4 separate regions of the Homo sapiens genome follow, and all the other regions are linked to region 2. The links come from fine-mapping of genetic effects on gene expression. A gene starts in region 2. Each other region holds a variant in brackets. All regions are shown on one strand. Distances are between the middles of the regions. Region 1 holds the start of LOC105374764 (a long non-coding RNA gene). Region 2 holds the start of B3GNT2 (UDP-GlcNAc:betaGal beta-1,3-N-acetylglucosaminyltransferase 2). Region 3 has its middle 130 kb from the start of MIR5192. Region 4 has its middle 82 kb from the start of MIR5192.

The links. PIP is the estimated chance that this variant, and not a neighbour inherited with it, causes the effect.
Region 1: its variant is the best candidate, but not a certain one, in a credible set for the expression of B3GNT2 in T cells (TOPMed, PIP 0.68).
Region 3: its variant is the best candidate, but not a certain one, in a credible set for the expression of B3GNT2 in blood mononuclear cells (TOPMed, PIP 0.66).
Region 4: its variant is the best candidate, but not a certain one, in a credible set for the expression of B3GNT2 in lung (TOPMed, PIP 0.64).

The regions. Positions count from the first base shown.
Region 1 is chr2:62,412,696-62,420,688 of GRCh38, forward strand. LOC105374764 (a long non-coding RNA gene) reads left to right here and starts at 2,498. Exons shown (of 6, transcript XR_002959390.2): 1 at 2,498-2,734. RefSeq lists an enhancer at 2,660-2,729. The variant A/G (reference allele first, on the strand shown) is at 4,573.
Region 2 is chr2:62,192,368-62,198,625 of GRCh38, forward strand. It overlaps B3GNT2 (UDP-GlcNAc:betaGal beta-1,3-N-acetylglucosaminyltransferase 2), which reads left to right and starts at 3,748. Exons shown (of 2, transcript NM_006577.6): 1 at 3,748-3,988. It overlaps LOC124906013 (a long non-coding RNA gene), which reads right to left and starts at 3,646. Exons shown (of 2, transcript XR_007086336.1): 1 at 2,772-3,646; 2 at 1,622-2,540. RefSeq lists enhancers at 2,233-2,840, 3,447-4,053, 5,034-5,143 and silencers at 3,134-3,363, 3,654-4,093, 4,274-4,623.
Region 3 is chr2:62,329,215-62,337,207 of GRCh38, forward strand. No RefSeq gene overlaps it. Among named protein-coding and RNA genes, the nearest start is that of MIR5192, 130 kb to the left of the region's middle. RefSeq lists an enhancer at 4,790-5,019. The variant A/G (reference allele first, on the strand shown) is at 3,983.
Region 4 is chr2:62,283,805-62,291,797 of GRCh38, forward strand. No RefSeq gene overlaps it. Among named protein-coding and RNA genes, the nearest start is that of MIR5192, 82 kb to the left of the region's middle. RefSeq lists a silencer at 4,070-4,364. The variant C/T (reference allele first, on the strand shown) is at 4,362.

The DNA.
Region 1 (7,993 bases), 220 kb after region 2:
TCCTAAGATCTGCGGACCTGACTATAAATAAAAATGTCTCCTTTCATGCACTTTACATTTTAACTAGGGAGGCAAATATTAAACACATACATGTAAAATATAATGGGATGTAGTAACAAGTGCAATAAAGGAAAATAAGGCAGGGGATTCAGGGCTATTTCAGATAGGGTAATTGATGAGCTACAACTTTTTTTTTTTTTTTCAGAGATAAGGTCTTGGTGTGTTGCCCAGGCTGGTCTTGAACCCCTAGCCTTAAGCAGTCCTCCTGCCTCAGCCTTCCAAAGTGCTGGGATTACAGGTGTGAGCCACTGTGCCTGGTGCAGTCGCAACTTTTATCAGCACAGATATCTGCTAATATCTGTGCAAAGGCATAGATGAGGTGAGGGAGTAGGGCAGGTGAGTATCTGAGGGAAAAAGGACCTACAAACACAAAGACCAAAGCCGTCTGTCTGGATCTTCCCTGAGATGTGACTCCAGAGTAGCAGCCAAAGAATATGACACTCAGGAAGTCATCTAGGGTTCGAGGTGCTAAAGCCAACTTTTTTCTTTTTCCTTTTTTGAGACAAGGTCTTTCTCTGTTACCCAGGCTGGAATGCAGTGGCGCAAACACGGCTCACTGCAGCCTTGATCTCATGGACTCAATTGATCCTCCCACCTCAGCCTCCCTAGTAGCTGGGACTACAGGTGGGTGACCCCATGCCCGACTAATTTTTGTATTTTTTGTAGAGATGATTTTGCCATGTTGCCCAGCCTGGTCTTGAACTCCTGGACTCAAGTGATTCACCCGCCTTGGCCTCCCAAAGTGCTGGGATTGCAGGTGTGAGCCACCATACCCAGCCTAGAGCCAACATTTCTCTTTTTTTCTATGCTTAGCATCCAAAGCTATCTTTATCAAAATCCACCTGCTAAAGCCCCCGCTAGGACAGCATGTGGGGAGGCTCTAGGCCATTCTGGATTCAGGACCTTCTGGCTCCATTCTGAATACAAAAGCTGACTTTTGACGTGAGAAATCTGACACACTCTTCACTCTCTGAGCCCAGGATTTTCTTTGCCAAAGAGCTGGGCTTCTTTCTGTAGCCAGTGGTGATCCCACAAGCTTGCCTTTGCTTATATCAAAGACTCCAGATCTCCAGTTGAATGTCTCCACCAAGACATCAGAGTTGAAATTAAAAAGAGCATTTCTTTCAGAGAATAAGCCCAAGCTTTGGAGATCTGGTTTGTACCCAGTCCCTGTTCCAGGCCAGCCTGCTCTGTCCCTTGCTCATTTAATTTTCTAGGTTAACAAACAGAGCAAAGTTTCCAGGTGTGCTTGCAGAATATCACCTGGAACATTATTTGGAGGAGAGAGGCAGGGTGCTGAGCTTTTTCTGAAGCTTTTTCTGAAGGCTTATATTCTGTAGGTCAGGGAGCCAGTTACTTACAAGTAAAACTGTCCCCAACAAGATTGCTCTATCAGGGCCCATTTGGGGTTGGCTTTTCTAGCATATGAGTCTAGCATATGAATCAGGCCAGGTGTGGTGGCTCACACCGGTAATCCTAGTGCTTAGGGAGGCTAAAGGGAGCCGGTTGCTTGAGACCAGGGGTTTGAGATCAGCCTGGTCAACATAGTGAGACTCCATTGCTACAAAAAATTAAAAAATTACCCAGGCATGGTGGCACGTGCCTGTAGTCCTAGCTAATTGGGAGGCTGAGGCAGGAGGATTGCTTGAGCCCAGTAGTTCGAGGTTGCAGTGAGCCGTGATTGTGCCACTGTACTCCAGCCTGGGTGACAGAATGAGACCCTGTCTCTAAAAAAAATATAAAAATTAAAAAAAAAGTATGAATCAAGTATAGCCTGAGTGGACTCTGGGTGGACAAGGGGACTGGTTTCATCTGGTTACTTGACTCAGAAAGTCAAAAATAGGCTGGGCATGGTGGCTCACGCCTGTAATCCCAGCACTTTGGGAAGTCAGGGTGGATGGATCACTTGAGGTCAGGAGTTCAAGGCCAGCCTGGCCAACATGGTGAAACCCCATCTCTACTAGAAATACAAAAATTAGCTGGGTGTGGTGGCACGCCCCTGTAATCCCAGCTACTCAGGAGGCTGATGTGGGAGAATTGCTTGAACCTGGGAGGCAGAGGTTGCAGTGAGCCTAGATCGTGCCATTGCACTACAGCTTGGGTGACAGATTGAGACCCTGTCTCAAAAAAAAAAAAAAAAAAAAAGTCAAAGATACCTGAGGTCTTTTCTTCAGTGTCTGCATTCTCAATGTTCATTTCATACCCGAGAAGCAAAGCCAGGCAAGGCAGCCTGGTAAATGGGCCCGGATCTTTTCCCAGAGAGCACTTTGTAACCTTGATAACAAGACTCAAATGACCTCCACCAAAATCAAAAACAAAACTAACAAAAGCCCATTTGAATGTTAGAAAACATCTTCACAATGAATCTAGTCTTTCTGTTTTTGTGGTTTCGGCAGCTGCTTTATTTGGGTGTGTTCTTGACAGTCATGGTTTCAGAGGGTTCTTCTATCCAAGAGGAAGTCAGTCCTCTGAAGACCAAGTTTGCGTACTGGACAATTTGAGCTGACAGCAGCTGCCAACTCATGCTCGGCTCTTCACGGTGGACTGTCTCTTGTGCAGGTCAGCTTGTCCTGGCAGATGCTATCCATGGCAGTGCTTCCCTGCCTGGGCCTGGGGAGAGGCCCTCCTGGGAGATTCCTCTTCTGGCTGAGCCTGTACCTGGGCCTGTGTGCAGGTAAGGAAGGCAGGTCATTGCTGCCTTGAAACTAATCCAGTGGATGTACCTGGATCAGAAGACAAAATGAACTCACCAAATGTCAAATCATTGTTAACCAGGGCAAAGACTTACTTGTCCTCTCCCTGCCATGAGAAACAGCTCTGCCAACCACTGTCACATCTCCAGTGAGGGCTCTCATGGTATTTGCAGTGTGTGTGGTTGTTGTTTTTTGGAAGATGGGATCTAGAGAGTAAGAGGGTGTAGGGGTATAGGACTGGCAGCATTGGCAAGGGCTTAGAGCAAGGACATTTGGTAGCTGCCCGTGGGAGTGTAAACATTTCAGGAGGCCAATCTGGCAATGTGTGTCACGCCCAGAACAGTCCTGGCTTATTGTTATTTATTAATTACTATGGATTTTTAATATTATCTTTTTTCACTCTCAAAGAATCCTGCTTTGTAGAATAAATGATATAATCACCCAACCTTTGGTGTGCCTTTAGGGAATGTATCCTAAGAATATGTACAAAGATGTAGATTTAGGGATGTTTACCACAGGGGTACCAGGCTTAAAGAAAAGCTAGAGATAAGTTATGTGGTTAATAACAGAGAATTAACTAAATTAGTTAAATAAATTATAGTACATTCCACACAGTAGAATGCTAGATAGCCATTAAAATGAAATGTGGAAAAATATATAGTTCCATGGGAATATATGCATATTATTAAGGAAAATTACTAAACATTTTTTATATATAACACTATTATATATAGTGTTTAGTAATATATATAGTGTTTAGTAATTTAATATTAAATACTATATATATTTAGTAATTCACTATATATAGTAATTTAACATTAATGATTATATATTATCATGCAAACCTAGTTTACAAAGAAAAAAACATATGCACTGAACAAAAGACTTGAAGAATATACACTAAGCCATCATCAGTGGTTATCTCCAGGAAGTGGAATTAGAAGTGTCATGTACTTTCTTTTATGCCTTTTCTGTATTCCTACATTTTCTACAAGGAATGTGTATGTTGTAGGCAGAATAATAACATCAAAGATGTCCACCTCGTAATCCTCAGAACCTGTGAATATGCTAGCTTACATGGCAAAAGGGAACTACGTCTACAGATAGAATGAAGGTTGCTGATCAGCTGCCTTTGAGAAGGGGAGTGTATCCTGGATCATCCAGGGGAGTCCAGTGCAATGTCAAAGGTCCTTAAAACAGGGAAGAGGGGCCTGGCATGGTGGCTCACGCCTATAATCCCAGTACTTTGGGAGGCCGAGGCGGGCAGATCACGAGGTCAGGAGATTGAGACAATCCTGGCTAACACGATGAGACCCCGTCTCTACTAAAAATACAAAAAAAAAAAAAAATTAGCTGGATGTGTTGGTGGGCGATTGTGGTCCCAGCTACTCAGGAGGATAAGGCAGGAGAATGGCGTGAATCCGGGAGGTGGAGCTTGCAGTGAGCTGAGATCGCGCCACTGCACTCCAGCCTGGGTGACAGAGCAAGACTTTGTCTCAAAATAAATACATAAATAAATAAAATGGGGAAGAGGGAGGCAGAAGAGTGAATGTCAGAGTGATGTGATATGATGTGAGGAAGGCTTGACCAGCCATGGCTGGCTTTGAAGAAGGGGCCATGAGCCAAGGCATGTGGAAGCCTCTAGGAGGTGCAAAAGGTGAATGGATTCCAAAAGGAATACAGTCCTGTTGCACCTTGATTTTAGCCCAGAGAGACCCATTTTGGACTTCTGACCTCCAGAACTATGAGATAATAAATCTGTGCTGTTTTAAGCCACTAAGTGTATGATAATTTGTTATAGCAGCAATAGGAAACTAAC[A/G]CAAGAAATTTCCTTTTTAGTCAGAAAAAAAAGATAATAAGAAAAGTCATTTTTAAAGAGAGGATTGGGCTGGGCTCGGTGGCTCATGTCTGTAATCCCAGCACTTCGGGAGGCCAAGGCAGATGGATCACTTGAGGTCAGAAGTTTGAGGCCAGTCTGGGCAACACAGCAAGGCCCTGTCTCTACAAAAAAATGAAAAAATTAGCCAGCCATGGTGGAGTGCACCTGTAGTCTCAGCTACTTGGGAAGCTGAGGCAGGAGGATTGCCTGAGCCCAGGAGTTTGAGGCTACAGTGAGCTGTAATGGCACCACTGCACTCCAACCTGTGTGATAGAGCAGCATCTTGTCTCAAAATAATAATAATAATAATAATAATAAAATAGAGGATTAGAAATCATTCTTTGTAATCTAACCCAACAGCCATCCAGGGAGGAGGCCTATAATCTGCATGAGGAGCTTCTAGAACTAGCTGGCTGTTGTTTTGTTATTAGCAGAAAACAATAATATTGTCAATAAGTAAATAATCAAGAACCCCAAGCAGATTTAACCCAAAGAAGACTACCTTAAGGCATTTAATAATCAAACTCCCAAAAGTCAAGGATAAAAAAAAGACTCTAAAAGCAGCAAGAGAAAAGAAACAAATAACATGCAATGGAGCCCAAATATATCTGGCAGCAGGCTTTTCAGTAGAAAACTTTACAGGCCAAGAAAGAGTGGCATGACATATTAAAAATACTGAAGGAAACAAAACTACCCTGGAATAGTATATCCGGTGAAATATCCTTCAAACATGAAGAAGAAATAAAGACTTTCCCAGACAAACAAAAGCTGAAGGATTTAATCAACTCCAGACCTATCCTACCAGAAATGCTAAAGGGAGATTTCAATTGGAAAGAAAAGGACATTAATGAGCAATAAGAAATTATCTGAAGGTACAAAGCTCACTGCCAATAGTAAATACACAGAAAAACACAGAATATGATAACACTGTAACTGTAGTTTGTAAACTACTTTTATCCTAAGTAGAAAGAATAAACGATGAACCAGTCAAAAATAATAACTACAACAACCTTTCAAGACATAGTCAGTAAAATAAGATAAAAATAGGCCAGGTGCAGTGGCACACACATGTAACCCCAGCACTTTGGGAAGCTGAGGCGGGTGGATCACTTGAGGTCAGGAGTTCAAGACCAGCCTGGCCAACATGGTGAAATCCTGTCTCTAGTAAAAATACAAAAATTAGCTGGGTGTGGTGGTGCATTCCTGTAATCCCAGCTACTCAGGAGGCAAGGCAGGAGAATTGCTTTAAGATCATGCCACTGTACTCCAGCCTAGGTGATAGAGCGAGACTCTGTCTCAAAAAAAAAAAAAAAAAAAAAGATATATAAATAGAAACAACAAAAATTTAAAAAGCTGGGGGATGAAGTTAAGCCATAGAGATTTTATTAGTTTTCTTTTTGCTTGTTTGTTTATGCAGAGTGTTAAGTTGTTATCAGGTTAAAATAATGTGTTATGGCCAGGCGCGGTGGCTCACGCCTGTAATCCCAGCACTTTGGGAGGCCAAGGCAGGCAGATCACGAGGTCAGGAGATGGAGACCATCTTGGCTAACACAGTGAAACTCCGTCTCTACTAAATATACAAAAAATTAGCTGGGCGTGGTGGCAGGAGCCCATAGTCCCAGCTACTCAGGAGGCTGAACCAGGAGAATGGCATGAACCCAGGAGGCGGAGCTTGCAGTGAGCCGAGATCATGCCACTGCACTCCATCCTGGGGGACAGAGCGAGACTCCGTCTCAAAAAAAAATGTGCTATAAGATAGCATTTGCAAGCCTCATGGTAACCTCATACAATTAATACACAAAAAATAAAAAGCAAGAAACTAAATCATATCACCAGAGGAAACCATTTTCACTAAAGGGAAACAGGAAGGAGACAAAAAAGACCAGAAAATAAATAACAAAGTGGCAGGAATAAGTCCTTACTTATCAATAATAACATTGAATGTAAATGGACTAAATTCTCCAATCAAAAGACATAGAATGACTGGCTGAATGGATGAAAAAATAAGACCTATTGATCTGTTGCCTACAAGAAACACACTTCACCTATAAAGACACATATACACTGAAAATAAAGGGATGGAAAAAGATATTCCATGCCAACAGAAACCAAAAAAGAGCAGGAGTAGCTATGCTTATATCAGACAAAATATATTTTGAAACAAAAACCTATAAGAAGAGACAAAGATCGCTATATAATGATAAAGGGGTCAATTCAGCAAAAGGATATAACAATGTTAAATATATATGTACCCAACACTGGAATACCCAGATATATAAAGCAAATATTAATTAGAGATAAGGAGAGAGATAGGCCCCAGTGCAATAACAGCTGGAGACTTCAACACCGCACCTTCGGCATTGGACAGATCTTCCAGACAGAAAATCAACAAAGAAACATCAGATTAATCTGCACTATAGGCCAAATGGATCTAATTGGTATTTACAGAACATTTCATCCAATGGCTGCAGAATACACATTCCTTTCCTCAGCACATGGCTCGTTCTCAAGGATAGACCATGTTAGGTCACAAAACAGGTCTTAAAACATCCAAAAAAATCAAAATAATATCCAGCATCTTCTCTGACCACAATGGAATAAAACTAGAAATTAATAACAAGAGGAATTTTGGGAACTATACAAATACATAGAAATTAATATGTTCCTGAATGACCAATGAGTCAATGAAGAAATTGAGAGGGAATTTGAAAAATTTCTTGACATGAATGACAATGGAAACACAACATGCCAAAACCCATGGAATACAGCAAAAGCAGTACTCAGAGGGACATTTATAGCTTTAAGTGCCTACAACAAAAAAGAGGAAAAACTTCAAATAAACAATCAATGATGCGTCTTAAAGAACTAGAAAAGCAAGAGCAAACCAAAACCAAAATTAGTAGAAGAAAAAAAAAATAAAGATCAGAGAAAAAATAAATGACATTGAAATGAAAAAAATTATATAAAAGATCAACAAGACAAAAAGTTAGTGTTTTGAAAAGTTAAACAAAATTGACAAACCTTTAGCTAGACTAAGAAAAAAAGAGAGAAGATCCAAATAAATAAAATCAGAAATGAAAAAGGAGATATTACAACTGATACTGAAGAAATGCAAAGAATCATTAGTAGCTACTATAAGCAATTATATGCCAATAAATTGGAAAATCTAGAAGAAATGGACAAATTCCTAGACACATACAACCTACCAAGATTGAACCATGATGAAATCCAAAACTTGGACAGACCAATAACAAGTAATGAGATTAAAGCTGTAATAAAAAGCCTTCCACTAAAGAAAACCCTGGGACCCTATGACTTCACTGCTAAATTCTACCAAACATTTAAAGAAGAACTAATACCA
Region 2 (6,258 bases):
CTGGCTGCTCTTCCACCTCCTCTGCCAGAGGTTTGCCTCTGTCTGGCCCTTAGATAAGAGTTCCTCAAGGCTCAGTGGTAGGTCCTCTTCTGATCTAATTGTACACTCTCATAGGAGCCCACAAGCCTCTGGTGACTTCATTACCACTGCCACACCAGCTATTCCAGCCCCAGCCTCTCCTCAGAGCCCCAGACCCTGCAGCCAACCACCTGTTCAACATCTCCACCCGGACATCTCACAGGCACCTCAAACCTACTTTGACCAAATTTGAACCTTGAGAGGGTTCTCCAACTCAGAAAATGGCACCACCATCCATCTGGTTAAAGAAGCAGAGATCTGGGAGTTTTCCTTGATTCATCCCCCCTAAGCAATTACCAAGTCTCGTTGGTGTCTACCTCTCTACATTTGCTCTACTGCTTAAACAAATGGCCCCTCTCACATTATAGCAACAGCCTCCTAACTGTCCCTCCATTCCATTCTTCCCCTTTCCCTATTCCTTCTTCACACTGCAGTCAGAGTGATCTACTTCAAAATGCAAAATTGAGTGTATGACTCTTGTTTCAAATGTCTCAGGATAAAGTCCAAACTCTGTAATGTGGTGTACTGGCCCTGCGTGATCTAACCCCTGCCTGCCTCTCTAACTTCCTCCTCAACCACTTCTTCCTTTATAGTCTGAACCAGCCAGGAACTCCTCATGGACTCCCCAGATGATCTCACCACCTTGCACTCCCTGTGGCCCATATCACAATTGTAATTAATTAATAGTGCATTTAATTGTTAAGCCCCTCTCTCCAGCTAGACTGTGAGCTCCAAGCAGGGAGTGTGTTTGCCATGTTCACCACTCCAGCGCCTAGTCCTGTGCTGCATCTAGAGGATGGCCAGTACATTTTTGTTGAATAAGTGAATAACACATCTCTGCCTACTGATGATGGACCTGGGTCCCAACCTAACAGTAGGGACTATAGCCAAGCGATGTGGAATCTAGCATTGAGTTACTCCCCAAAAGACACAAGGTAACTATTGTAGATATACTCCCAACTGTGTTAAAGCCACCATGGAGAAAATGCCCTTATTTATTTGAGACGGAGTCTTGCTCTGTCGCCCAGGCTGGAGTGCAGTGGCACGATCTCGGCTCAGTGCAACCTCCACCTCCCGAGTTCAAGCAATTCTCCTGCCTCAGCCTGCCAAGTAGCTGGGACTACAGGTGTCCACCACCACACCTGGCTAATTTTTTTGTATTTTTTGTAGAGACGGGGTTTTACCATGTTGGCCAGGGTGGTCTTGAACTCCTGACCTCAAGTGATCCGCCCACCTTGGCCTCCCAAGGTACTGGGATTACAGGCATGAGCCACCGTGCCTGGCCTAAGAATACCCTTATTTTTAAATTTCATGGCCTGGGCAGCCTTGGGCAGCGAGGGACACAAGCTTAATTTCCTAGTTGGTTGCCAGCTGACATTGTAGCAGCTCCTTTACTATAAACTCCTTGGCTGGCCGTTCTTGCAAGCATGTCTGTGGCTACAGGGAGTGCATTTAAAGGGAAGACACATATGCATGGAAACAATATACCAATCTGATGGCACAGAAAATCTTCCTTAGATGTCCGCTTTGTCTCAACACTGCATTTAAATATCAGACAGCAGCCTAGAGATATCTTTATTTAAACCCAGGAACATGGACTCAATATTATTTTGATACAGAATGAAGACATAGACTTCATTTATTAATTTATACTCCCTAGAGTTCTTTTTTTTTTTTTGAGACAGAGTCTCACTCTGTCACCCAGGCTGGAGTACAGTGGCACGATTTCGGCTTACTGCAACCTCCGCCTCCCTGAGTTCGGCGATTGTCCTGCCTCAGCCTCCCAAGTGGCTGGGATTACAGGTACATGTCACCATTAATTTTTGTATTTTTAGTAGAAACAGGGTTTCACCATGTTGGCCAGACAGGTCTCGAACTCCTGACCTTGTGATCCACCCGCCTCGGCCTCCCAAAGTGCTGGGATTACAGGCGTGAGCCACCGCGCCCGGCCTCTACTTCCTAGAGTTCTTAGAGAATTTCTAGCTTCTGTTTCTTTAAACATGTTTTATTAGCTTTCTAAATTATGAAAGTAAATACAACTGGAAAAATACAAAATCCAAAGTCAAGGGAGTAAAAAAATGTAACTCCCTTGTTTCCCCTCCCCGCGTAACCGTGGTTAACAGTCGGTGTGCACCCTTACAGATGTTTTTTCTATGAAAATACAAACATTCGACTTGTTTCTTGGACTTTACCTCGCAGTCCGAGGAGAATCATGTGAACAGCATGAAAGCAGCATGGTCCGAAGACTGCAAACCATAACATTTCCATATCTACTGACTCTGAATTCCTGTTTCTAGAGGACCCGCACCCACGTGGCTCTGTGCATCCGCAGCAACTTGGTCTTTCTTCCTTTGCTGAGTTTGGTTAAGGGAAAGGGCCGATTATTGAGTGGGCTCAGTTCACAGGTGCCTGAAATTCCTACTTAGCAATGTTCCTTTCCAGCTGATTCCGCCTCCGAGAGCCTTAGGAAAAAATGCTAACAGTTAGGAGCGAAGCGTCCTTAATTGCTCAGTCCAATTATCTAGATGGGTCCAGGTTCGGTTTCGATTCAGAGATAAGGACCAGGGGGCGGGGACGCTTCCAGGTGAGCCCCTGGTTAGGCTTGCCTCCCCGCGGAGCGCACGCGGGTCTCGCTGGCTGGACTGGGCCTTTCAAGACCAGGTAACTTCTCCATCCGGTATCGCCAGGCTTACCTGGGGGCCTCAGAATTGTGTCAGCTGCGTCTCTGAGTCACCTTGGAACCCCTCGAAGGAGCGCGGGGCTAGGAGGGCGCATCGGTGGGCCCGGGGACCCCGCTGCTAGGTGTGGTTGGCGCCAAGGCCGCCTCTGGCCGGCGGAGCCCTGCAGTGTCCGGAGGGTGCGGTCAGAGTCCGGCCCTTTAGGCCTTGCCTCGGTATCCGCCTTGCCCCTTGGGCCGCGGCACGGGTTCGGGCCGAGCGCCCGGCATCTTGCGTTTCTGGCTTCCTGAGACGGGCGTGGGACCTCGAGGAAACCACTCTGCATGACCCCACGAAGAGAACTAAGGACCACCCCCCACCCTTCCTGTCCTGGACGGCTTCATAAGCCAGAGGATCCAGTGGCAGTACCAAGCAGGGCACCACTCTGGGTCGTGAGCACCTAAGAGGTGGAGCAAAGGTCAGACCCCAGGGTGGCCCAGGCCTCCCTCCCCCGCCTCCCCGGCGGGGCCATTCCTCACCCGCCCCAGCACTGGAGGGGGCGGCCGGGGTCGGTCTAGTTCCGGTTACAAACTGGACAGAAAAGGCCACTGGAGTCTCGCTAGGCGATGCGCCTAGTCCCCTAGCCTCAGACGAACCGCAAGAGGGGCCACCCACAACTGGAGGGGCGGAGGCTGGAGCTGAGTTTCATTAGTGTTTTTGGAGCTGCCAGGCATTTCCAGGGGGGTCGCCTTCCTAGAGGCCCCCTTTCCCCAGCTTAACCCTCGGCTTTGCAGGAGGGTGCGTGGGGGCTGGAGGGTCCCTGGAAGCCGCAGGGAGCGCGGGCCCGGGTGGGTCCTGGTACCGGGTGGGGAGAGCGGAACCCTCCCAAAACTTGGGGCGCGGGGCGGGGCCGTCGGGCGGTGACGTGAGGGGCGGGGCCGGGCCCCATTGGCGGGCGGGCAGGGGAGGGGCGGGGCCGGGCGCCCGCGGCGGCTGCTGCGCCTGGAACCGGAGCCTGGAGTGAGGCGCAGCGGCAGCGGCAGCAGCGGCAACAAGTGCCGGAGGCTAGCAGAGCCAAGCCGGAGCAGTCCCTGCCGCCGACACCGCCGGGCCGCCCGTCCGGGGCGCCGCGCATGGAGCGTGAGCTGCGGCGGTCGCCGGGCTGAGCCGCGCGGAGCGGCCGGGACGTGGATGTGGCCGCGATCTCCCGCCCTTGCCCCCGCCCCGCCGAGCTGGAGCTGCTCCCGGACAAGGTAGGGCCCGGGCGCCGAGCACCCCCGCCGGCTCCCTCCCCGCTGCCCTCTCACCGCCAGGCCCCTCTACCAGTCCCCTTCCGCCTCCCTGCTTCCCGGCCCCACCTTCCGGACACCCTGCTACCCCCGCCCGGTTCCTCGCCGGTTCCGGCTTCGTACCCGCGCCCCGGTGGAGGAAGCCGTCCCTAGGTGGCTCCTGCCGCATTTAAGCCTCCCTTACCTTCCCGCCGTCCCAGCCACCCAACCTCAGCCCAGAGGGAGAGGAGAGGGACACCGCCCGCTGCGGGGCTTTGGAACCTCCCAACCCATTCCGTGCCCACCTCGCCCTGGAGCCCGGGGACCTTCCCCCTCCTCGCTGCACCCCAACTTCCGGGGGATCCGGCGCCGGGGCGATGCGGGCTTTGGCAAGGGGCATCTGGGGCCGGGCCTCCTCATCCGGGGCGCGCGGGCATTTCGGGGAGGGGGGCGCGCGTGATTCCTCGCTCGCACCCCCGCACCCCACCCTCGCACTGCGCCGGCCTCCCGTGCCGCATGGGGAGATCAGGTGTTTTGTGAGCCAAAGAGCCGCCGGCAGCCGCTCCCCACCCCCCACCCCCAACCTCTGCCACTTCTGTCTCCGGCTCCCCCAAAACTGGTTTCTGCCAAACTTAGGGAAAACCTTTCGCTTTGACCTTTTAAAAAAAATATTCCACACTGTTTGCGTTGAATGATTAACCAGGCTGCTAGCCCGAGTCGTGGGGGTGGGGTGGGGCGGGGTGGGGTGGGTGCTGCCAGGCCAGGGAGCGCCTGAAGCCGGACTCTACGAGACACCCCTCGTGGGAAGGTGGGCGTGGGGGGCCCTGCCGGGGCTGCGGGCGCGGGACTGGCGGCTACTCCAGCACGGCAGGCGGACCCTTCTGGAGGCAATAAACCGAGTCACCCGGTTAATTTCCAGGCCACGGTATTTGAAACTCGGGGCTGGGGAGCCGCAGAACTCCCTGTACCCCCATCAAGTAGAGGAGCCGTCGGGAGACTCCCCACAAGTGTCACAGCGTCAAAGCTCATCTTTAAAAATATGTACATTTATAACCTGGGTTGGCGAGGCGGCGCTCTTCTGCCCAAAACGTAGGGGTGGTTAGTTTGTAGAGTGGGCTTAGCTCACAGGTGCCTGAGCTGTATCCCCGTGGCCGCCTCAGCCACCCCAACTTCTCAGAAAGATTGTTTAGAACAATTAAACTATATTCTTTTGCCCTTCTCTTGTTGGAACCCTACCGTAATATCCGATAGCGAAGCCAGTTGGTGAATATAGAATTCTACTTGTTAAAACAAATTCTTCCGGTATAATTATTTGTGCCTCTGGAGGTGGTAAACGAGGTGGCCGACAGGGCCGGGACTGGGAGTGAAAAGGCGGGGACCCTGGCCGAGCCAGTCCCGGGGCTCCGGTGCCGGCTTATAGTCGCACCCATGCGGATCTGACAGCTGACCCGGAGGGAGGACCGGCAGGGCAGGGCAGGGCGGTCACTTCCCATTGTCCTAACTCCTGCTCCTGGTTCTTTTGAGTAGAGGGTGGTTAAGCCTGGAGGAATTTGGGAGAGTTTTACTCGGAGCCCATGCGCTCTTAAACCAGATTAGATTTTAAGAACACAGAAGTGAAGGAGCCCCATAGGGCTGTACTTGAGTAATTTGAGTAATCCTTTTCCTCCCTGCTCAGACTTTACAAATGTGTTTATCATTAGATCTTCTGTTTGAAACTACTTTTTTAGTTCGGAATATTGCTTTTTCTCCCTACAGCAAGGGTTCACTGTTTCTCATTTAGTTTTTGTGCAGGCGGCATTTGTATGATGAAGGCCTAATTCTCTGTGAAACTGACCAGTTCTCACCCTTGCCATTCATTAGACTTGATTCTGCCACATTTAATTCAGTGATCTTGGGCAAGTTATTCTTCACCTGAGCCTCATTTTACACATCTGGTTTTGGGGATGGTGGTGTTTGCTCTGCAAGATTATTTCTGAGGACAAATAGGATGTTTGCCAAACTCCTAGCACTGCACCAGGAGAGCTAAGAAGTGCTTAATAAATGGTGGTCATTGCTGTAATCAATAGAGAAGTTCCTCCTGGCATCGACTTCCCCTTACCAAAAACAGTAACCCTGTGGTAGCCTTTTAGATTTCCCTGTCTGAGACTGAAATCAGCCACATTTGGCAGATGCACATCAGAAGGTTCTTAAAACCTAAGTAGTATTTTGAGGAAAATAAGCATGATTTGCTTGTTGTTCAAAAATTATGAATTTTT
Region 3 (7,993 bases), 140 kb after region 2:
CCACATCCTTCTGCCTTTGTTAGCTAAAGAGTGTATTTTAGCTCAAGTTTTAGCCACTACTCTTCCCTGAGTTTCTCCCATTTGTATATAAGATCTACATATTAATAAACTTCTGTTTGCCCTTCTCTTGCTAGTTATCTTTTGTAACAGGAGCTTGAGCTGAGAACATAGAAGAATAGAAGGAAATATTTTATTCTTCCCTTACACTCACTAAATATTTTTCATGACCTGCTGATAGCTCATAACCTGCACATTTAAAAGCATTGCACTAAGCAGAATACCCTTTTATCTCCCCTCCCAGGGCTAAATATTTGTGTAATGCTTTAGTGTCTACAAAGCATGTTTTAAAGCGTACATTATCCCATTTAATCCTTGCACAATCCCAAAATGGGAATAATAACTTTCCTTTTATAAATGGGGGGAAATGAGGTCTAAAATGTTGGAGCAGCTTGCCAAAGTCATGCACCCAGAAATGCAGAGTTTGGATATTAATCTCTGAATCTAAATCCAGGGCTCTTTCACCAAAACCAGACGCCTAGTCCCACTTTATCAATACCTTCAACTCTTATGGTTTAGGTTAAACTAGACAAAGTAAACTCTTTTTGCGTAAACTGGATTCTTAGCGCTCACAAAACCTCAGAATTCTTTGTGAGCCTGGAGTTTGCATACCTGTCCTGCCTTCCCTTTCCTTAGCCCGGGTGGTCTGGCAGAGCTGGGAAGGTCGTTGCAGAGTATAAGGTGTACCACTTTCCCCCCAGGGCAAGAGGCCTCTACACCCACCTGGGGCTTCACTGTGGCTGGCCTTGGGTTTGAGCCCTGCCTTTGAACACAGCAGGGGGACACAGTCCCTGCCCTGGGCTGGAAGTAGTTGATTCACGCTGCTGTAACAAAATACCATACACTGGGCAGCTTATAAACAACAGAAATGTATTTCTCATAGTTGTAGAGGCTGGGAAATCCCAAGATGAAAGTTCTGGCAGATTCAGTGTCTGTTGAAGGTCTGCTTCCTGGTTCATAGATGGCGCCGTCTCAATGTGTCCTCACTTGGTAGAAGGAGTGTCGATGAAAAGAGTCCAACTCTGTAAAATATTTGAAGAGATTTATTCCGAGCTAAATATGAGTGACCCATGGCCCATGACACAGCCCTCAGGAGGGCCTGAGAACATGCGCCCAAGGTGGTCAGGGCACAGTTTGGTTTTATACATTTTAGGAAAACATTAGTGTATTAGTCCTTTTTCATACTGCTATAAAGAATGGCTTGAGACCAGGTAATTTATAAAGAAAAGAGGTTTAATTGACTCACAGTTCAGCATGGCTGGGGAGGCCTCAGGAAACTTATAATCATGGCAGAAGGTGAAGCAAGGCACCTTCTTCACAAGGCAGCAGGAAGGAGAAGTGTTGAGCGGAGGGGGAAGAGTCCCTTATAAAACCATCAGATCTCATGAGAACTCACTCACTATCACAAGAACAGCATGGAGGGAACTATCCCTTGATTCAATTACCTCCACCTGGTTTCTCCCTTGACATGTGGGGATTATGGGGATTACTCTTCTAGATGAGATTTAGGTGGGGACACAGAACCTAACCATATCAATGAGACATCAATCTAATACACATAAATGTACATTGGTTTGGTCCAGAAAGGTAGGACAACAGGAAGGAGTGGGGGACTTCCAGGTCATAGGTAGATTCAAAAATTTTTCTGATTGGCAATTGGTTGAAAGAGTTAAGTTATTGTCTAAAGACTTAGGAATGCCTGGGATAAGATAAGGGGTTGTAGAGGCAAGGTTTTCTCATGCAGGTAAAGCCTCTAGGTAGTGGGCTTCAGAGAGAATAGATTGTAAATGTTTCTTATCAGACTTAAAGAGTCTGTTCTATCAGTAATTCCAAAAAGGAGGAGGGTATAGGGAGGCAGTCTGACCCCTCCTTTCCATCATGGCCTGAACTAGTTTTTCAGGTTAGCTTTGGAATGCCCTTGCCAAGAGGAGGGGTCTGTGCAGATGGTGCGGGGCTTAGAATTTTATTTTTGGTTTACAGGAGCAAGGCAGCTCCCTGGGCTTTTTCTACAAAGGCTCTAATCCCACTCATGAGGGCACAGCCCTCACAACCTAATCACCCCCAAAGGCCCCCCCAACCCACCTCCTAACACCATTACCTTGGGGGTTAGGATTTTAACCAGAGAGGAGGAATTTTGGGGGAACACAAACATTCAGACCTTGGCACTCAGGAAGCTGGGAAATGATACCAGGTATTGGAGAGGAAAAATGGCTTTCCTCTATCCTTCTGGTTCATTGGCTAGGCTACTAATTACATTGACATTAGACAGATTAACAGGGGGAAAAACATGTTTAATTCCATGCATACACATGGGAGACCCACAGAAACAGGAGAGTCACAGAAGGGCCAAATGATTGGAGGTTATATAGCATCCTGAGCTACAGAAAGGAACAGGGGCTTGGGGCTTCTGGGGGGTTACCTTACACAGATGAAAAGTCTCTCAGGTAATAAAGCTTGTCTAAGCAGCCTTCTTCCTAATACAGATACTTTTACTAAGGTAAACTTCCTTTATAGATGTGTTTTTTTTTTTTTATAAAAAGAAAGCTTTTCAGAGCTACCCCTGTCTGCAGTTTCTCAGAATAACCAGCTCAAAATATACCAATGAAGTGTATTTTGGGGTGGCATATTTGGGTCTCCTACAGTAATATTTTTGGGTGGTGTGTCCTGAGCCCCAACACAGAAAGACAAACGATGGGGTCTGAGGACAGGTGAGCCAGCCTGAGGGTGAGTGGCTTTGGGTGGGGGACTGGGGAAAGGTCAACTGAATGAGCTGAGGATAGGGATGGGGTATCACATATTCAGGAAATGCTGAACACCCTGGGGGAGGGAAAGAAAACCTGGGGGTTAGAAAGCATGTCTACCAGGTGGGGCATGGTGGCTCAAGCACTTTGGGAGGCCGAGGCAGGTGGATCACCTGAGGCCAGGAGTTTGAGACCAGCCTGGCCAACATGGTGAAACCCCATCTCCACTAAAAATACAAAAAAGTTAGCCAGGGGTATTGGTGTGCACCTGTAATCCTAGCTACTTAGGAGGCTGAAGCAGGAGAATCTCTTGAACTCGAAAGGCAGAGGGTTGCTGTGAGCTGAGATCACGCCACTGCACTCCAGCCTGGGCGACAGAGCAAGACTCCGTCTCAAAAAAAAAAAAAAAAAAAAAAAAAAAAAAAAAAAAAAGCATGTCTACCAGTTTTCAAGTTGAAACACTGCCTCTCCTTCTTATTCTCCTACAATTCTGCTTCCATGGGTTTTCTACATGTGGCAGTGGTTAGGAGGAGTTTTGCAACATTTCAAACAAATGAGCTTTGTGTTTGTAGGGAAGGAAGGCTATCTAAACACTGATATGTCTAGAGAGACTGGTGAAGAACTTTTCCAAATGGGCTGCCAGGCTCTGCAAGCCAGTGAGCTCAGAGAAAAGCTCATCAGGGCCAAGAGAGAACTCTTTCTATATCCTCAGGATCCAGCCCTAGGTACCCGGGACAGCATTCTCTTCCCACCCAGAGAAGCCAGGGTTCCACAGAACTGAGCCTCCTTCCAGCACTAGCGGCTGGTGGGGGTTGAGGATTACCCGTATTTCATCCAACTGGAGACACCATCCACTGTAAGCTGCACTGTTATTTTATGTACCATTATGCAAGAAAAAAAAAAGCCAAATATGGAGACACCACTTAAAAGCTGGGATGCTGTAAGAAAATAAGTCTTCCCACAGGAGTGGCAGGCTGGAAATGCGCACGTCTCAATCCTGACACTGTGGAGGGAGGAACAACAATTCTCTCCTGACAATTTGAACCACGAGCCTGTGCTCATGCAGATTTGAGGTCTGAATTCATGCTGTCAGTGTGGTCTGAAAAAGTCAAGCTGAAAATTAATTTAATGTGGTCTCAGGTTGGTGGTGACCTAGAAGTGACTGGCAGCTGTGCATCATTTCC[A/G]GGAGAACTCAGCTTCGCATTGCAGGACGCCACTCATTTTAAAACACATCCTGGTTTCAGTGATGTTAAATATGAAGAAATGTGTTGCTTAAAATTAATGATGAAGGGGGCCAGGTGCGGTGGCTCACGCCTGTAATCCCAGCACTTTGGGAGGCTGAGGTGGGTGGATCATGAGGTCAAGAGATTGAGACTATCCTGGCCAACACGGTGAAACCCCATCTCTACTAAAAATACAAAAATTAGCTGGGCATGGTGGCGCGTGCCTGTAGTCCCAGCTACTCGGGAGGCTGAGGCAGGAGAATCACTTGAATCCGGGAGGCAGAGGCTGCAGTGAGCCAAGATTCCACCACTGCACTCCAGCCTGGCAACACAGCGAGACTCCATCTCAAAAAAAAAAAAAAAATTAATGATGTATGGGCATGAAACGGATGTGACGTTGGCTGAACTTATTACTAACTTTTCCAGGTTTGTCTGGAACGTTCCTGGTTTTAGCTCTAAAAGCCATGCTCCCTATGAAATCCCTCAGTCCCAGATGAACCACAAAGGTTGATCACTCCACCCATCTGGTTGTCTTTTGGAGTTATCTCCTCTGGCCTAGGGGGCCTTGTTTTTACAGGGGTGGGATGATTGTACCGCAGCACGGACACCTGACCTGGGGGGAGAATAGGGGAATATGGAAATTTAAACTCAGGAATCTGAAGAAATGAGAACACTTTCGGAGAACACTAGGCCTGGCCTAGTTATTCAGTTTCTCTTGGGTTCCTGTGCATTGAAATAATTTCAATAAATTCTCCCTTTTATTTACGTGCTCTTTGAGGGGTGGGGTAATTTCAGTATATCTCTGGCCTTTATAGCTAATGGGGCCCTGACTGAGGTAGGGAGGCAGCCCTGAAAGGCTTTTTAGAGGCTCCAAGACTAGCCTAGGCGCCAGGCTTGCCACTTGGAAAGCTTCCAAGAGAAACCAGCGATGCCTGTCAGCGGGTCTGTGTATGTAGGGGATGGGCTCTCCTTAGGCAGATTTGTCTAAATGAAGCAGAAGTACCATGAGCTCCATCCAACACTGTTGTTATTCTCACAACCCTGTAATTAGAATGATGTGAATTATTCCCTAAACAAAGGCCTAGAGAATAGTTTAACCATCTCTGTTTTATTTGTGTACTAAATAACTGTACTTGGAGTCATGTTTGTTTCCAAGCTCCTTATCACGTGTTTTCCTTTTTCTCTTCCCTGCCTCCTATACCAGTAAACTTCTTGAGGGAAGAGTAAGGTTCTCCTGCTCATACCTGCCTCTCCCAGGGCCCAGCATAGCTGCTTGTTTTCCTGTAAGCTCCTCGAGGACAGGGAGTGGGCCTCTGTGTGTTCCTAACGCCGAGCACCATCGTGACACCTAATAAGTTCTCAGTGAGTGAGTGCTGAACTGAGCTGCCACTTGTAGACTCACCAATAAATACCTGAGCCAAGGATGACGGATTTCCTCATCCAGTCATTCACTGAGTAGTTAATGAATTTGTATTATACGCCTCCATGCAGCTTACATTCTACTGAAAGGCAGACCAAAACCTAGTAAACAGACAAATAAAGTCAGAATAAGGTATGGTAAATGCTGTGGGAAACAAAAAGGAGAAAGAGGCCTAGTTGAGATAGAATAGCCAGGGAAAAACCCCTCTGAGGAGGTGACAGCTGTGAGAAAGGAAACACTTTCTCCCCACTCTCTTAGGTTCAGTGTTGGAGGCCTGTGAATTAAACTGACAAAAGACAGATTGGCAAAACAAAAACAGAATTTTACTCACATACATACATGGGAATTCACAGAAAAATGTGGCTCAAAGAGGTGATTAGGATTGGGGGCTTATATATCTTTTTCACAGGCTCTCAGATGAAAGACCTTTGTCTTTTGGCGGTAGCTCTGACATTTTATGACACAATATACACCCTTAATAGGAGAAGGGGATGGAGAGAAAGGAGACTGGAAAACCAGCGACTTCTAGAAAAGATAAATGGGCCCTAAGGCAAATAGATATGAGGGAGATATGATAGTTTTGTGACCATGTCTATTTAGGAGAGTTTTTATAGCCTTGTGGCTTCCCCTCTGGTGAAGGGAGTCACTCTTCCATGGTTGGGAAACCTCTGGGAAGGGGATCTATGATGGTTGCATTCTTTTGGGAGGCTCTGCTTTTAGGCAGAAAGGGGAGTTTAGGAAAGAAACTCTCTTCACCATGGTATGTTCTGGATCCTTTTGCTAGAAAGTTGGTTTCTTTTTTTTTTTTTTCTTGAAACAGAGTCTTGCTCTGTCACCCAGGCTGGAGTGCAATGGCTTGTGGATGTCCTTCTGCAGCTTTCTCTGTATTCATTGTTATGGACTGAATTGTGTCCCTCCAGATTCATACGGCGAAGCCCTAAACCCCTAATTCGACTGTATTTGGAGGCAGGGCCTACAAGGAGCTAATTAAGATTTAGTGAGGTCACAAGGGTGCAGCCTAAAGCCAAAAGGACCGCTGTCCTTATAAGAAGGGAAAGAGACACGAGAGAGCTCCCACTTCTCTCCTAAGCAAGCACAAAGAAGGGGCCATATGAGGACATAGGAGAAGGCAGCTGTCTACAGGACAGGAAGAAAGGCCTCACCAGAAAGCAGCCCTGACAGCATTTTGATCTTGGACTTCCGGCCTCCAGAACTGAGAAAATAAATCTCTGTTGCTGAAGCCACCCAGTCTGTGGTATTTTGTGATGGCAGCCCTAGCCAACTAATAGACTCGGATTAGTATACACAAAGATCCGTGCACAGGGAGTGTGTCTTATTTGATGTTTATTTGAGCAAAAATGGGATTGGGCTATACTCTCTTTCCTCTGAAACTAGCCTTAGTCATTAACACTATTAAATGGCCGTCTGGCTTCTTGCTGACACCCCACATCCAGTTCCATCAGGACGTCCTGCAGGCTCCACCTTCAAAATCCATCTGGAATCAGACTGCATCCCCCCACCTCGTGGCTTCCACTTGGTGCAAGCCCAATCCTGTCTCTCTCACTTAGCTACAGCAGCCTCTACACCCCTCTCTGCTTCCACCCTTGTCCCTTCAGTCCATTCCCCTCACAGCAGCCAGAGGAACCCTTTGAAATCTGTCAGATCACGTTGCTCCTCAGCTTAGAAATCTTAACTGGTTTCCATTCTACTCAGAGTAAAAACCTATCTTAGCCAGGTGGGGGGAGTGCATTCATTGTCTGTTACTCGGGAGGCTGAGGCAGGAGGATTGCTTGAGTCCAGGAGTTCAAATGCAGCCTGAGCAACACAGTGAGACCCCATCAGTAAAAAACCAAAAAAACCAAAACCAAAGTCTTCACCAGGAGCTGCCAGGCCCTACGTGGTCTACAACATGCATATACATCCCCCGCCCCCCAACATCCCTGCTCTGCTCTCTGACCTTCCCTCCCATCCCCATCTCCTGCTACCCTGGCCTCCTTGATGCTACTAGATCACACTAAGCACATTCCCAAATCAGGGCCTTGGCACTCAGTCTGGAATGCCCGTCCTCCTGATGGCCACAATGTTCCTTCCCTCACTTCCTCCCGGGCTCCATCCCCCAACCCACCACCATTATTCTTCATAGCATTTCTCACCAGCTGATACTATATACTTATTTATTTGTTTATGGCCTGTCTTCCTCCACTAAGATGTGAAATGCATGAGCAAAAAACCTTGTCTTATTCCCTGCTATATCCCTAGCATTTAAACAGTACTAGGTTCATAGATGATGCTCAGTAAATATTCAATAAAGAAATCTCTCCAAGTCACTAAACATAAATATAACAACCTTTTCAATGGTTTTATAACATGTGCTAATATGAATAGATCACAATTCACGAAACCATCTCCCGTTAATGATGTATATGTTGTTTTTCACTTTTTGCTACATTAAGCGATGCTTGTGACAGACATTTTTACGTACCCTTCTCTATTAGTCCTTTTGTTTCTATAGGATATCTTCTCTAAAGCTGGATTGGTGTGTCAAGAGATAG
Region 4 (7,993 bases), 92 kb after region 2:
AACCCTGTTAATGGATGATGTAACATGACATCTCACTGTCATTTTGATTTGCATTTCCCTCATGACTGACAATGAGCATCTTTTCATATCCTTATTGGTCATTTATCTTCTTTGGAGAAATGTCACAATCCTTTGCCAGTTGGTAGGATTTTGATTGTTTTCCTTTTGCTTTTCTGCATTTCTTATTTGGATGCAACAGCAAGAGTTGCTTGTGTAAGAACAAATAAAAGAACCAGGATAGAGCCAGGTGTGGTGGTACATGCCTATAGTCCCAGCTACTTGGGATGCTGAGTTGGGAGGATTGCTTGAGCCCAGGAGTTCAAGTTCAGCCTCAGCAATGTAATGAGACCTTGTTTCATTTAAATGTGTGTGTATATATGTATGTATGTGCACAAAAGATTTGACCAGACTTCACAAAAGAAAATATATGAATACCTAAGGCTGGGTGTGGTGGCTGATGCCTGTGATCCTAGCACTTTGGAAGGCTGAGATGGCCGGATCACCTGAGGTCAGGAGTTTGAGACCAGCCTGCCCAGCATGGTGAAAGTCTGTCTCTACTAAAAATACAAAAAATTAGCTGGGCCTGGTGGCTCATGCCTGTAATTCCAGCTACTCGGGAGGCTGAGGCAAGAGAATCGCTTGAGCCTTGGAGGCAGAGGTTGCAGTGAGCCGAGATTGTGCAACTGCACTCCAGCCTGGGTAACAAGAGTGAAACTCCATCTCAAAAAAAAAAAAAAAAAGAAAATATATCAATAAACATACTAAAAGGTACTCAACATCATTATTTATCAGAGGAAAGCACATTAAAACCACAATACAATACCACTACCTAACCACTAGAATGACTAGGATTAAAAGATTGACAGAACCAACTGTCAATCTTGCTGGCAAGGATGTGGAACAACTGGAATTCTCATACATTGCTGGTAGAAATGTAAAATGTATAACCACTTTGGAAAATAGTTTGGCAGTTTCTCAGAAAGTTAAGTTAAATATATACTTACAATGGAACCTAGCACTTCTAGGTATTTATCCAAGAGAAATGAAACATACGCCCATGAAAAGACTTACGCATGAATGTTCATGGCATTATTTATAGTGGCCCCAATCTGAAAATGACCCAAATGTCTATCAACAGAGGAATGAATAAACAAACTATGGTATAGTCATACTGTAATTGCCTGACAGGTTCTTCCTGCCCACTGCACAGACAAAACCAAATCACTGAGACCGTTGTATTGTAGTGGAGAAAGGATTTAATTAATACAAGGCCACCTAGTGGAAGGACTGGTGTTATCTCTCAAATCAGTCTCCCCAAGGGCTTGGAAGTTAGGGTTTTTAAAGAATAGTTTGGTGGGTGAGGGACTAGGGAACGAGTGCTGCTGATTGGGTTGAGGATGCAATCATAGGAGTATGGAAAACAGTCCTTGTGCACAGAGTCTGCCTCTGGGTCGGGGGCCACGGACCAGTTGAGTCATGAGTCACAAGTCCAGGTGGGGTCAGTTGGGTTCCAGAATGGAAAAGTCTGAAAAACATCTCAAAAGACCAATCTTAGGTTCTACAATAGTGATGTTATCTGTTGGAGCAATTGGAGAAATCACAAATCTTGTGACTTCTGGCCATGTGACTCCTGAGCAGTAAGGAGTTATAGAGACTATACCTACAGCTGGGCATAATAGCTCATGCCTGTAGTCCCAGCACTCTGGGAGGCTGAGGTGGGAGGATTGCTTGAGCACAGGAGTTTAAGACCAACCTCGGCAACATGATGGGATGCCATCTCTACAAAAAATACAAAAATTAGCTGGGTGTGGTAGTGCACACCTGTAGTCCCAGCTACTCAGGAGGCTGAGGTAGGGGGATCACTTGAGTCTGGGAGGTTGAGGCTGCAGTGAGTTGTGATGGCACCACTGCACTGCAGCCTGGGGGACAGAGTGACACCTGGTTTCAAAAAAGAAAGGAAAAGAAAGGAAGGAAAGGGGAGTGGAAGGGAGAGGTGGAGGCGGGGAAGAGGAAGGGGAAGGGGAGGGAAGGGATTACACCTATATTTTAGCAGAGTTCATGTCTCCTCTCATAATCCTAATCTTATGGCCTTTCATTAGTTTTGGTCCCTGAGCAAGGGGGCAGAGGTTAGTTTTAGGGAGGGACTATTATCGTCTTTGTTTCCAAGTTAAACTGTAAGCTAAATTCCTCCCATGGTTAGCTTGGCCTGTGCATAGGAATGAGCAAAGATGCCAGCCTGCGAGGCTAAAAGCAAGATGGAGTCAGCTGTGTTATATTTCTCTCACTATCATAGTCTTTGCAAAGGCAGTTTCAACACAAGGGCTACTACTCAATAATAAAATGAACAAACCGCTGATGCATGCAAGAACATAGATACTTCTCAAAAACATCATGCTAAGCAAAGAAAGCCATACACAGAAGAGTATATGCTGTGTGAGTCTATTGACATGAAATTGCCAGAGGCTGGGGGTGGGAGAAGGAATTAACTGCGAGGAGGCAGTCAAGGGAAATCAGGGGGTGATGGAAATGTTCTCCAACTTGACTGTGATGGAGTGAGCATCTAAAAACTAATAGAACTGCACAGTAAAAAGGTACATTCAATTGTATGCAAATTATACCTGAGAAAGTTAATTTAAAAAGCAGTAGAAGTAGAGGAGGAAGAGGAGTAGGGATAGAAATAGCAAGAAGATGAACGGTAGAAGAGGAGGAGGAGAATCAGGAGAAGAAAATTACCATGTAGAAATGATAATACGCTCCCAGTCAATCCATCGCCCACGATGTGCCTGTCACTGTTAAGTGCCAGGGAGGGGTATTCTGTAAAAAGTGAAAGACCTGTCCCCTGTCACTAGGAGTTTACAGTCTATTGGAGAGGTGAAATATTCTTCAGAATCCCAAAGTGTGAGAAATGACAAATCAAATTCATATGCTCCCCCCACTAGGGTTAGTGGGAAATCAGTCTCTGTCATTGTTTAGGATTTCCTCCCTCCTCCCCCACTTCATCCACCCAGCCCAAGGTGTGCATGTGACGCCCAGGCTTACACTGTCTTAGGGAAGAGGGAAGAGGCCCCGTCTTCGGTCCAGCATTGGCTGCTTCTCCTCGTGCAATTTGTCCACAGCCCTTCTGATCTCATCCATGCTCATGACTCCTCCTCTTTCTTTTTATTTTTTATTTTTTTTGAGATGGAGTCTCGCTCTGTCGCCCAGGCTGGAGGTCAGGGGCGCGATCTCAGCTCACTGCAAGCTCCGCCTCCGGGTTCACGCCATTCTCCCGCCTCAGCCTCCCGAGTAGCTGGGACTACAGGCGCCCGCCATCATGCCCAGCTAATTTTTTTGTATTTTTAGTAGAGACGGGGTTTCACCGTGTTAGCCAGGATGGTCTCGATCTCCTGACCTCGTGATCCGCCCACCTTGGCCTCCCAAAGTGCTGGGATTACAGGCGTGAGCCACCGCGCCCGGCTGACTCCTCCTCCTTCAAACCAAGCTAGGACACTTCTTTGCAGAGGTTCTCAGGCCTCTGCCTCTGGTGCCACAGTCGCTGACCTTCAGGACGTGTCATTCCCAGGGTGCAGATCCCCCAGTCATGAGGCCTGCAGAAGGCCGATGGCTCACGCACCTCATCCTTCCCTCCACTTTGGCTGCTTCCTTCTCTAGCCTCCTTCCAAGCCATCCCACCAGCTCTTTACTCACTTCCTAAAAATAAAGCCTTCACCTCTCTGGGTAGGGGAAACCCATGCCCCAGGACTTGAGGCCTGGCTATCCAATAGGAGGAGAGGTATAGTTCATTTTTTTCATTATGCGCCTACAGCCCAGAAAACAAGGGGCAGTTACTTTTTCTTTTTTTTGTTGGGCCTCACTTTATCCCCCAGGCAGTGGTGCAATCTCAGCTCACTGCACCCTCAACTTCTGGGGCTCAAGCGGTCCTCCTACCTCAGTCCCCCAAGTAGCTGGGACTACAGGACATACTACCATGCCCAGCTTTGCCATGTTGACCAGGCTGGTCTTGAACTCCTGAGCTCAAGCAATCTGCCCACCTCAGCCTCCCAAAAGTGCTGGGATTACAGGTGTGAGCGACCGTACCCAGCCTGGGGCAATTAGTTTCTTAGCCTGGTTGTTCTATTAGACTGCTGCAGGGGTCTGGTTCTAAAAAGATAGAGGGTGTTGGATGTCCATTGTGGGTGAGATGGCTCAGAGGGTGATTAGTGCCTGTCAGTTGAGTGTGGTGACCTCGTGAGGGGTGGGGCTGGTGGCAGGGAGCCAGGAGCTCCTGAAACAGAGGATGCCTCAGTGTCCTGGCACTGTGCCCAGTCTGTCTGGGGCCAGTCTCTCACCAGCTGAAATGTATGTGGTTACAGGAGAAAGGG[C/T]ACCACACTGGGTGACAGAGCAGCTAGTTTCAGGAGGTGTGAGCCCAAAGAAATCCTGGCTTTGGGGAATTTGAGGGAGGTGGCAGTTTCAGAGAATCTGAAAGTCAGCCCATAATCCAAAACCAAGGAGAGAAGGCACCAAGCTCCACCCAGCCTCTGGCCACTGGCTAACTCTGAATGGGAAATGGGCCTACTATTTGCTGTGCATAACCTGCCCATCCCCCAGGATTTCTAAGAAGTGCTTGGCCTGTGTTTCTTGGTTCTCCTGAGAGCCAGATGTTTAATAATTTGAGTACATTTGAACTTGAAAATGCAAAAACATCCTTCTAGCTGCATCCTCCTTTTCCTTCCAGGGCCAGAATGATGTAGTGGGAGAACTTGATTCTGAAATCAAATGGAAAGTGCTTTTGTTTCTGGAGGTTAGAAAAAAAAAATTGTCAAAGAGCCAGGGCCTCATCTCTAAAAAGAAAACGTGAAATGGGCCATGAGTCCTGCTTAATAATTCAGAGATCAAACAGAGCCAACAAGAAGCTGGAGTGAACGATCAGATATACTCACACCCTTCTCTTTTTATCAGCTTGCAAATATTCTCGTTGGCAGCTGGTTAGAGAGAAGCAGTCCATCACAAATAAGCTAAACCATGCGTTCATTCACTTATTCAACAAAATCTTCATGACCGCCTCTTATAGCAGACGTCGCTAGTGCTGGGGATGCAATCCAGAACCAGCATGTGTCCCTCTGCTTCAGGGACCTCAGGATCTATATCATGATTCTCAAACTTTCATGTCCATCAGACTCCCCTGGATGGCTTGTTAAAACACAGATTCCTGGGTCCTACCTGTGGAGTTTCCAATTCAATAGGTCTGGGATGGCCTGAGCATTTGTATTCCTGAAGAGTTCCCAAGTGATGCTGATATTGCTGGTCCTGGGACCACCCTTTGAAAACCACTGGGCAAAGCAACCATGTCAGCCAACCATTTTCACCTCTCAGCATTACATGGCTCACTGTAGGAAATTCGAAGCCCTGGATAGGTTGCTAGAGGCCTGAGCTTACCAGCCCAAGAGCTGTGGCCATCCCAGGCCCACATAGCAAAGGGCACAAATATCTTAAGGCACACTTATGTCTAGGGAGACTGTCCAGGGGCCCTGGAACCCTCCCGAGAGAGGAGGAGGTACAGCTTTGAGAGATCTTCTATTGACTTCTCAATGGAAATGGAGACCTCACAGCACCACCATTTCACCACCAGCCCAGTGAGAGCCTAGAGCTCTGGGAGCCTGAGTCTGGGCTGTGGTGCAACGTGTGGTGCAAGGCTTCCACGTTTTCATCCTGCCTCCACCTAGAGCCTCTGCTGATCCCTTCCTGTCACATTCTTGACAACCCAAATAGCTCATTTCCCTTCCATGCTCACAGCTGGAGTAGGCAGGTGAGATCCCAAATGGGCCTCGGAGGCCTTTTCCAACTGAGTGGACACAGAGACATCATATATATCCACATGTAATATAGCAAATGGCAGATCATCTTGTGGGTCAAAATCTGCAAAAATCATTGGTTTTTCTTCTAACAGCTTTATTGACATATAATTTACAATTCACCCATCTAAAGTACACAATTCAGTGTTTTTTAGTACAGTCACAAAGGTTGCCTGTTCATCTTCATAATCAATTTTAGAACATTTTCATCACTTCAAAAAGAAACCCTGTACCCTTTAGTCACCCATCCCTCAACCACCCCCCAGCTATAGGCAACAACTCACCTACTTTTTGTCTCTATCGATTTGCCTATTTTGGACATTTCATACACATGGAATCATGCTATATGTGGCCTTTTGTGATTGGCTTCAAAATTACTTTTAACAGGGACATGGGATGACCTACATGTGAGTCCAAAAGATCATTGGCAGAAAGACAAGGTGGAGACAAATGGTTTAGGTTTACTTAATCTTGGAGTTCCAGTTGTCCCAGGGTGCTAATTCCCACCTCAGGAGGCTGTGGTGGGGAGTATGAAGGACCAGCGCAGACCTGGTTCCCAGATGCTCAGGGTGGAGGAGACTTGCTAGTGAAGAGAAGAGGCCTAGTATAATATTGTAAAATATATATTTGGGCCGGGCGTGGTGGCTCATGCCTGTAATCCCAGGACTTTGGGAGGCTGAGGCAGGTGGATCACTTGAGGCCAGGAGTTTGAGACCAGCCTGGCCAACATGGTGAACCCCCCCATCTCTACTAAAAATACAAAAATTAGCCAGGCATGGTGGTGGGTGCCTGTAGTCCCAGCTACTTGGGAGGCTGAGGCAGGAGAATCGCTTGAACCCGGGAGGCGGAGGTTGCAGTGAGCTGAGATTGTGCCACTGCACTCCAGCCTGGGTGACAGAGCAAGACTCCATCTAAAAAAAATTATATATATATACACACACACACACACACACACACACACACACACACACACATATATATATATATATATATATATAGAGAGAGAGAGAGAGAGAGAGAGAGAGTCTTATTCCGGTCTCCTAGCATACTCCTAAAATCCTTGGGAACTCCAAAGTCTTTTTGTTTGCTAATGAGTTGATCCATGGCTGGCAGCCCCTACCTAACTTCAGGATGTGAGCTGGTCACCAAAAAGACCAAGGCAGGATTAGAGGGATGGAACTTTCAGCTCTCCCTGCAATTCCTTATCTTATGCATCTCTTCATTTGGAGGAGAGGGGGCTAAAGTTTGGGTTAAGCACCAAAGGCCAATGGCTTAATCATGCCTGCCTCCATAATAACCCGAAAAGTTCTGGTTCAGAGAGCTTCTGGACAGCTGAGCATGAGGAGGTTCTGGGAGGGTGGCAAATACTGAGAGGGCACGGAAGCTCCAGACTCCATACCTCAACTTATGTATCTCTTCATTTCCTTTGTAATAAGCTTTATAAAAAAAAAAACGGTAAATGTGTTTCCTTGAGTTCTGTGAGCCACTCTAGCAAATTAATTGAACCCAAGGAGGGGGGCATGGGAACCTGGATCAATAGCCAGTTGGCAAGAAGCACAGACAAAATAATGAAACCACCTTTGCAAAGATGGTGATAATGAGAGAAATCTAACATGGCTGACTCCATCTTGCTTCTGGCCTCACAGGCTGGCTGTCTTCACTCATTCCTGGGCACAGGCTGAGCTAACCATGGGAGGAAGTTAGTTTATAGTTGAATTTGGAAGCAAAGATGATAACAGTCCCTTCCTAAAACATATCCCCTCCCTGTTTGGGGACTAAAACTGCCTTTGCAAGACTAATTAGGATTGTGGGAAAGGACTGAATTCTGCTAAAATATAGGCATAGTTTCTACAATTCTTTGCTGCTCAGGAGTCATGTGGCCAGAGGTCAGAAGGTTTGCAACTTCCTCAGTTGCTCCTATAGTAGAACCTAAGATTTGTCTTTTGAGATCTTTTTCAGACTTTTGTATTCTGGAAACCAACTGACCCCACTGAGACTTATAACTCATGACTTAACTAGTCCTGCGGTCCCTGACCCAGGAGCCGACTGAGGGCACGAGAACTGTTTTCCACGCCCCTATGATTGCATCCCCAAACAATCAGCAGCACCCATTCTCTAGTTCTCTGGCCACCAAACTATCCTTGACAAACCCTAGCCTCCAA